Linked DNA regions of Homo sapiens: region 1 is linked to region 2. Evidence: fine-mapped expression QTL. A gene starts in region 2. The other region holds a variant in brackets. All regions are shown on one strand. Distances are from middle to middle. Region 1 overlaps DGKD (diacylglycerol kinase delta). Region 2 holds the start of USP40 (ubiquitin specific peptidase 40).

The links.
Region 1: its variant is fine-mapped to the expression of USP40 in fibroblasts (GTEx, PIP above 0.99).

The regions. Positions count from the first base shown.
Region 1 is chr2:233,458,629-233,463,029 of GRCh38, reverse strand. It overlaps DGKD (diacylglycerol kinase delta), which reads right to left. Exons shown (of 30, transcript NM_152879.3): 23 at 3,139-3,273; 24 at 2,685-2,836; 25 at 571-682; 26 at 295-387. Among named protein-coding and RNA genes, the nearest start is that of USP40, 110 kb to the left of the region's middle. The variant T/C (reference allele first, on the strand shown) is at 2,325.
Region 2 is chr2:233,564,779-233,569,179 of GRCh38, reverse strand. It overlaps USP40 (ubiquitin specific peptidase 40), which reads left to right and starts at 2,398. Exons shown (of 32, transcript NM_001365479.2): 1 at 2,398-2,496; 2 at 3,607-3,824. The coding sequence starts at 3,626.

The DNA of each region.
Region 1 (4,401 bases), 110 kb after region 2:
CGGCAGGAGCAGGACTCTGCACTACAGGCTTCTAAGGCAGAAAAGCATCTTCTGTCCACGACGACAAGGGTGTTTCCGCTGCAAGCGCTTCTCGCATGCTTGAGACAACCTGACTGAGGGGTTGCCAGCAGGGGTGGGCACCAGCCGCACAACAAACCAAATGACCTCTGCGGCCCATTCCTTAAGACCGGGAACTCTGGACTAAAGTGTGCTGCCCTGTGTGCCCAGCAACCTGGCGACAGCAGTCGTTTCACACACAGCCCGAGCCCTGCTGTCCCTGGGGCACCAGCTTACCAGGGCCATCTTCCCAGACAGCAGCAGCTCCGTCTCACTGCGCAGAGCTCTGAAGTTATTCACCATTTCCAGGACGAAGCTGCAGTTGAGCCCCTAGAAGAAACCAGGCAAATATGCATGGGGGCGGGGGGCCGAACATGCACGGTTAGGGGCAGGGAACAAGCACTGGGAGGGCCGAACATGCACCGGGGAGGCGGGGGAATGAACACGCACGGGGAGGGCCGAGGGCGGCAGACACTGAGAAGAAGCCAGGACTGAAAAGGCCAGAATAGCTACCTCTGTGGTTCTGGGCTTGCCATACACACGGTCCATGGACTTGGAGCTGGCATTGACGGCGTGGGCCAGTTCCTGCTCCATGTCCCGGTGAGACTGAGCTATTTCTCGGATACTAGAGAGGAAGAGAAGCACGGGCAGATGTCAGGCCAAATGGAAGGGCAGCCTTTCACAATACGCATCTGAACACGGCCCAGGTACCACCTGGAGGGCTGATGTGGAGGGCAGGCCCAGCAGGACGACAGGGATCGTGGCTCAGCCCAGCGACCGTTCAGTCACAAGCTTGGGCACAGGATGACCCACAGCAAATGGGAGGGCTTCCACGAGAAATCTGACGTCAAAATCCAAGATTTTCCAGGGAGAGAAATGTACAAAATGAGGCTTACAACCTGTAAAACGGCCAGTGGGCAAGTGACAGTGTGCACAGGCCCACTGCAGAGACTGCTGCAGTAAGGCACAATCCCCACAGCCTTGCTGGAACCTGTAACTGGCCGGTCTGTCCCTGGGGACAAAAGGACCCTCATCTGAACAGGACAATCCTGGTGCAGTGATGGGCTCTGAGCCAGACCCCAGATAGCAGCCCTCATAGGGAAGACGGTGAGAGCACAAGTCACACCAGGTCCCAGGGAGGCTGAGATGTGGCTCAGGCAGGTGAGATCGGGGGACAGAGACTATAGGAGCAGTGCAAGCAAAGGCAGCGGGGCCAGCCTGTCCTGACCCTGTGGAAACAGGCCGCTGCCAGCAGCTTCCTGCAGTGCTGTGCAAGTGCACCTTCCAGGCAGGCCAGAGGGGCCACCATGGGCTTTGAGGGGACAGGGTAATGGCTTTCCAGGGGAGGCCACCAGAAGCCCACTGCACGGCAAGGAATTAGCTGAACTGAAGTCCTCCAGCCCCATCACTGATCTGGGTGGGGTGGGGGAGAGACGAGGACAGGGGCCGCAGTGGCACCAACTCCTGGGGCAGAGAATGCAGCGCCAGGAAGGACTGCAGCCGGTATGGAAGTGCAGAGCGAGGAACGCCGGTGATGACTGGGACAGCGACCACCTGCTCGACAAGAGCCGAAGGCTGGCACAGACGATCCATCTGCACGCCAGGGCTGGGCAGGCTGCCTGGAAGGGCACACGGCATGCCGGGCACAAAACCGACGGGTGCACCTGTCCACAGCCAGGAGAAGAAGGAGCCCAGGGGAAACAAGAAAGGGACACCAGGGCACCAGCCAGCGTGCGGCCACGGGGGGAGAATGCAGGCAGGCCCCGCACCGGCGGAGCAGCACAGCTGCCGGCTGGGAGGGACTCACAGGCGGAACCCGCACCTGGCGGGCGAGGAGCAGGAATGGCAGACAATGCTGACCACCAGCCACGAGGGACACAGTGGCTCCAGGGGTGTTTCTAGAAGGCAGGTGAGAGGAAATGCCCCAGCAGTTGTCTTTTTTTTTTTTTTTTTTAAAGTAAACTTGAGAACAAAGAGCAAGCCTGTTCTCAGGGTAAAACGAGGGCAAAGTGAAGGCGGCTGTCAGCGGGCTGCCCTCGGGAGCCAGGGCAGGGTTTTTTTGTTTTGTTTTGTTTGTTTTTGAGGCAGAGTCTTGCTCTGTCGCCCAGGTTGGAGTGCAGTGGCGCTATCTCGGCTCACTGCAACCTCCGCCTCTGGGGTTCGACTGATTCTGCTGCTTCAGCCTCCAGAGTAGCTGGGACTACAGGCGCCCGCCACCACACCCAGCTAAATTTTTTTGTATTTTTAGTAGAGACGGGGTTTCACCA[T/C]GTTAGCCAGAATGGTCTCAATCTCTTGACCTTGTGATCTGCCCACCTTGGCCTCCCAAAGTGCTGGGATTACAGGCGTGAGCCACCGCGCCCGGCTGAGCCCGGGCAGGTTTTAAACGAGTGGTCCTGAAAATCACAGTGGGCTTTAGGTTCCAGCCATGTAAACTCCAGGCGAGTTCTGAAAGACCACTGGGGAAATGAGCCAGAGCTGAGGGCACATAAACAGGCTCGGCCCTCATGGGTAATGCAGACCCCACAAAAGTCAGGAGCAGCAGCTCCACGCCCCAGGGGCCTTGGAAGAGTGCAGTCCCAGGGACCCTGGGGGAGGCTCATGCGCAACGCAGAGGGGTAGGAGCCCACCTGTGAATGAGGACCCCTGCTGCCTGCCCAAACTGGTCCATCTGGGTGGCCTCCTCCTCGGACAGCATCTCCGGGTGCAGGGAACAGGATGGAGGGCGGGGCAGCTCGCACTTCTGCTTGTCTTCCCAGGACTTCAGGGTGCTCTCAAATGCCTATGGACCCGAAAGCCCAATTACACCTGCTGCTCTGAAGCATGCATCTGACTGCGACAGACACTATGGGGATGCCAACGAGATCACAACTAGAAAGAGACAAATAGGACTTTTTTTTTTTTTTAACATTAGGGGAAGGAGATGGTCCTAGAAATTACTGCCCTATTAGCTTAATCATTGTGTCTTAAAAAAAAAAAAAATCCTAGAACAAAACACAAAAAGCTCCAGCTCTTAACAGTGCACACAAGAGCCCACAGGTGAGCCCTGTACCCCACCCAGGTACCGCGGGCAGCCGCTCTTACCCTGTCTCTGGTCAGTGTCTGTGCCCGGTTCTTGTGGACAATCCGAATGTACCCTGGCGGCTGGACCCAGGCCTCTCCGTCCACCTGCACAGGCACGCCCTCATCCCCAAGGATGGAGATCTTCACCGTGCGACACTGAGCAGACATCATAGCCATTACTCATGCTGAGCCAAAACCCCCAGGGGTTTAAAAGTGCTATCAGCACCACCATGACCTTCCTGCTCCACACACCCGTCCCTGCCTTGCAGGACACCCCACCTCTGCCTCTGGGATGGCGCTCCGCCTGCAGCTAGCCTTCTGCTGTTGTGTCACTCAACCGAGGGTCTGTTCTCCCACTGTCCCGCCCCATCCCGCCCCATCCCCTCACTGAGCAGTCAGTGCAGGAGACCTTGGTGCTGAGACAACAGGTGTCAGAACCCAGGGGCAGGGGTGTTGTAGCTCCCAGAAGCCACTGGGCCCCTGCCACGTGAAAACACCCCTAGAAAAGAGCAGATGGCACAGTGGATGACGATGAGCCATCCATCATCATCCCGTTCCTCCTTTTCAACAACAAACATTGCCAAAGAGTGAAAATTGTGAACTTCAAGCAGCCTACAGCTAAGGGTAGACAGAGTGCTGGAAGACACCAGACAGTCGCAGGGTGGGGTTCAGCCAGTGGGTGTCATCAGCACCCTCCCCCGCCCCAGTGCCTGTGCCTGGGTACAGAGTCCTGCCCCATCCTCACAGAAAGACTGCCCTCAGCCCATCGCTGCTGTCAGAAATAAGCCATGGGGGCACCCCCAGCCCTTCACCACTCGGCCTCAGAACCATGATCGAGGGCCCCAGCTGGAAATCCTCCCACACCCCACATCAGAGCCATGGGCTCCGTCCCCACTGCGGCTTTGACAGCTGCAGACACGGGCAGAGTCCAGCCTGGGTCTGCTCTATCTCATCCCACCTCAGAGGGGACAGGCAAGGCTGTGGTTCAAGCAGGATACACATTTTGAAAGAGTTATCTTGGCCGGGTGCAGTGGCTCACACCTGTAATCCCAACACTTTGGGAGGCCAAGGTGGGTGGATCATTTGAGGTCAGGAGTTCGAGACCAGCCTGGCCAACATGGTGAAGTACAAAAATTAGCTGGGAATGGTGGTGGGCACTTGTAGTCCCAGCTACTCGGAAGGCTGAGGCGGGAGAATCACTTGAACCAGGGAGGTGGAGGTTGCAGCAAGCCGAGATTGCACCACTGCACTCCAGCCTGGGCAACAGAGCAAGACTCTGTCTCA
Region 2 (4,401 bases):
GCTCTCATTGCAGAATCTATGGGGTTCTGGGTGGCCAGGGACATTGTCCAATATCAAAAGCAATTTAAAAGGAAGTCCCTTACTGGCAAGGTACTTCCTGACTTCAGGGACAGAGCATTGGTTTTCATGGAACCAAACCAGAAAAAGTGTTTTCGTTGTACAGGGCTTTTTATCATAAAACAAAAAGACTTGCAGCTGGTGTTTATCTTTTCCCTTAAAGGCTCAGGGATTAGCAGCTTTATAGATGGCACATTTGAAAGCACTTTGGTAAATAGGTGTGTAGTGAGAAATACAGTATGAAAAGAATGTTGGGACCATCAGCGAACTAAGAATCAAAATAAAGAATTTCCACAGTGGATGTTGAGAAATCGTGGAAGCTTCTTTAGCAGAGAGGTTTGAGCTCAAAGTGCACCTTAGATGGATAGTGCATCTTATAGTGACGTGCAGGAAGGGGTGTGTAAAACGGGAGTCCACTGAAAAGGCTATCATCCTAATGCAGGTGAGATTTCATGGGGATCTGATAGGAGGAGAGGAAGCTATGGAATGAAAGGATTGTCCAGACAATACTTTGACATGCCATTAGTTTGATTCACAGACGAAAGACAAAGATATAAGATTATATAAATATAATCTTATATCTTTATAAATGTGACCACTCATTCATTCATATTTATAAGATTATATAACTATAATCTTATATAAGGTTATATAACTATAATCTTATATAAGGTTATATAACTATAATCTTATATAAGGTTATATAACTATAATCTTATATAAGGTTATATAACTATAATCTTATATAAGGTTATATAACTATAATCTTATATAAGGTTATATAACTATAATCTTATATAAGGTTATATAACTATAATCTTATATAAGGTTATATAACTATAATCTTATATAAGGTTATATAACTATAATCTTATATAAGGTTATATAACTATAATCTTATATAAGGTTATATAACTATAATCTTATATAAGGTTATATAACTATAATCTTATATAAGGTTATATAACTATAATCTTATATAAGGTTATATAACTATAATCTTATATAAGGTTATATAACTATAATCTTATATAAGGTTATATAACTATAATCTTATATAAGGTTATATAACTATAATCTTATATAAGGTTATATAACTATAATCTTATATAAGGTTATATAACTATAATCTTATATAAGGTTATATAACTATAATCTTATATAAGGTTATATAACTATAATCTTATATAAGGTTATATAACTATAATCTTATATAAGGTTATATAACTATAATCTTATATAAGGTTATATAACTATAATCTTATATAAGGTTATATAACTATAATCTTATATAAGGTTATATAACTATAATCTTATATAAGGTTATATAACTAATCTTATATAAGGTTATATAACTATAATCTTATATAAGGTTATATAACTATAATCTTATATAAGGTTATATAACTATAATCTTATATAAGGTTATATAGCTATAATCTTATATAAGGTTATATAGCTATAATCTTATATAAGGTTATATAGCTATAATCTTATATAAGGTTATATAGCTATAATCTTATATAAGGTTATATAGCTATAATCTTATATAAGGTTATATAGCTATAATCTTATATAAGGTTATATAGCTATAATCTTATATAAGGTTATATAGCTATAATCTTATATAAGGTTATATAGCTATAATCTTATATAAGGTTATATAGCTATAATCTTATATAAGGTTATATAGCTATAATCTTATATAAGGTTATATAGCTATAATCTTATATAAGGTTATATAGCTATAATCTTATATAAGGTTATATAGCTATAATCTTATATAAGGTTATATAGCTATAATATAGCTATACTCTTATATAAGATCATATAGCTATACTCTTATATAAGATCATATAGCTATACTCTTATATAAGATCATATAGCTATAATCTTATATAAGATCATATAGCTATAATCTTATATAAGATCATATAGCTATAATCTTATATAAGATCATATAGCTATAATCTTATATAAGATCATATAGCTATAATCTTATATAAGATCATATAGCTATAATCTTATATAAGGATCATATAGCTATAATCTTATATAAGATCATATAGCTATAATCTTATATAAGATCATATAGCTATAATCTTATATAAGATCATATAGCTATAATCTTATAAATGTGAACGAATGAGTGGTCCGCTGGCCGAGTGGACCCGCGAACTCACCAGCGGACTTGTAAGCGAGCTCACCTTGCCCGCTCCCGCTCCCGCTCCAGTTCCCAAACTCTTGGAGCAGAAGAGTTACATTTCCCATAAGGCCCCGTGCGAGGGGCCGGCGCTCCAGCGGGGCATCCTGGGAAGCATAGTCCACGATCCATAAATCACTTTCTGGAGACCCGCCCTCGCCAACATGGCGGCGCCCAGTTGGGGCGGGTTCGTTCGCTTCGCGTTTTGGCCAGGGCGGGGGTCTGGGCTTTAGGCAGTAAGTGCGGCTGGCGCCCGGGGATCCTGGGAGGGACGTGGGAAGCGTAGGGACAGTGTTGGTGGCCCAGTCTGAGGAGGGCGAGGCGAGAGGCTGCCCAGGCCTGCCTGAGGACGCGGCGCTCTCCTGGAGTCGGGGCAGTGGTTTCGGGCCACGGGGACCTCTGCCTTTTTGCGCCCCTGGGCCTGTGGTGGCTTGGAGGGCCTCGGCCGGCCGTAGGAGTTGGGAATTCAGGAATGCAGACAACGAGCTCGAGGCTAGACTCTCGAGTTGTGTTTTTTTAGTTTTCTTCTGAGGAAAAGAAAAATAATTGCATTTCAGCGCTTCCTGTCATTTGGTACCTATGCTAGGCGCTTTACGTTTCTCATCTCCAAGTGACCCTCCGCCACACTCGATGTGAAACCTTGGGGAAGTCACCTAGGCCCCCAGGGCTAACGATGGGATTAGTGGATACATACTGGAAGGCCTTTAGGCTTGATAATTTTAGTGGCAGTCTTCCCCGCCCTCCGCTCCCCTTCCCCCCTCCCTCCCCAGTGAACTGACTTCCGGCCCAACAGCTTCGGGACTGTACTAAAGTGCTCTAAAAAAAGTTAACTTGATCTGTTTAATTTAAATGTCATAATCTGGTATATAGTACTGAAGGGTGTGACAAGCAGAGATTTTAGAGAGTTGATTCTCAGAATTTAGGGTTGGCTTTGCCGTCCCAGCAGTGGATTAGTTGTGGCAACAGGTTTTCTTTTTTAAAAAAATTAGTGATGTGAACGTGCCTTTTTAAAAACAGCTGTTACTTATTGTGGGCCAAACCCTGTACACTAACTGCCCTTCTTTCGTTATGTCATTGGATAGTTTAAATGACCCGAAGAGACAGATGGTATCCTATTTTACACATAAGAAAACAGATTAACATATCCAGGGTCACACAGGTAGTTAGGGTCCTGATAGGGATGAAAAAAATCTAGATCTTGCTGCCTCCAAAACCCAACTACTGTACATAGAAACAGTAGTCCTGTGTTCTAAGAAACAACAGAATCGACTCCCAAGTGTAAGGTAGGGGGATTTGGGGAAAATTTATTTTAAAAATAAAAGCATTTATATGTCACTTTTTTTAAGGGTAGTATTTAGTTTCACAATGTTTGGGGACCTGTTTGAAGAGGAGTATTCCACTGTGTCTAATAATCAGTATGGAAAAGGGAAGAAATTAAAGACTAAAGCTTTGGAGCCACCTGCTCCTAGAGAATTCACCAATTTAAGCGGAATCAGAAATCAGGGTGGAACCTGTTACCTCAATTCCCTTCTTCAGACTCTTCATTTCACACCTGAATTCAGAGGTATGCTATGTTACGTACATTTAACTAGCAATATGTACCATCTTCTTTACATGTAATTAATTATGCAAAATCACAAATAGACCAATTATCTTAAAGATATATTCTACAGTATGTGTTTATTGTTGCACATATAAGATATAAATTGGTAATTCCCTCTGCAGAGAAATGTGAAGCTTAATCTTAAATATATCCTGGGTGATGACAATAATGTTTAGTAAAAAAATAAAGCAATATATTTCTTTTTTAATTCCTGTAATTTAAAGTACAACGTAAAGACAATTGTCATAAGTATCAGTCTTCATTATTGTTACACTGTTTGAGTTTTAAGATTTCTCTAGAATAACAAACACTTAAGCCAGAGTTATCCAACCAATTATATCTACCTTTTGGAGTGGGGAAGGGTGTCATATTATTTATATGGGTGCACAGTTGTTCATACGCATTTCTGAAATCTGGAAAGCTCACACCCTCATCTGATCTCACCTGAGCTTGTTTGGCTTCAGAACCAGACCTGGTGTGAGGCTATTTACAGTTTTTAGTTATCTCATGTGGGTGAATGTTCATACATTCATTACAG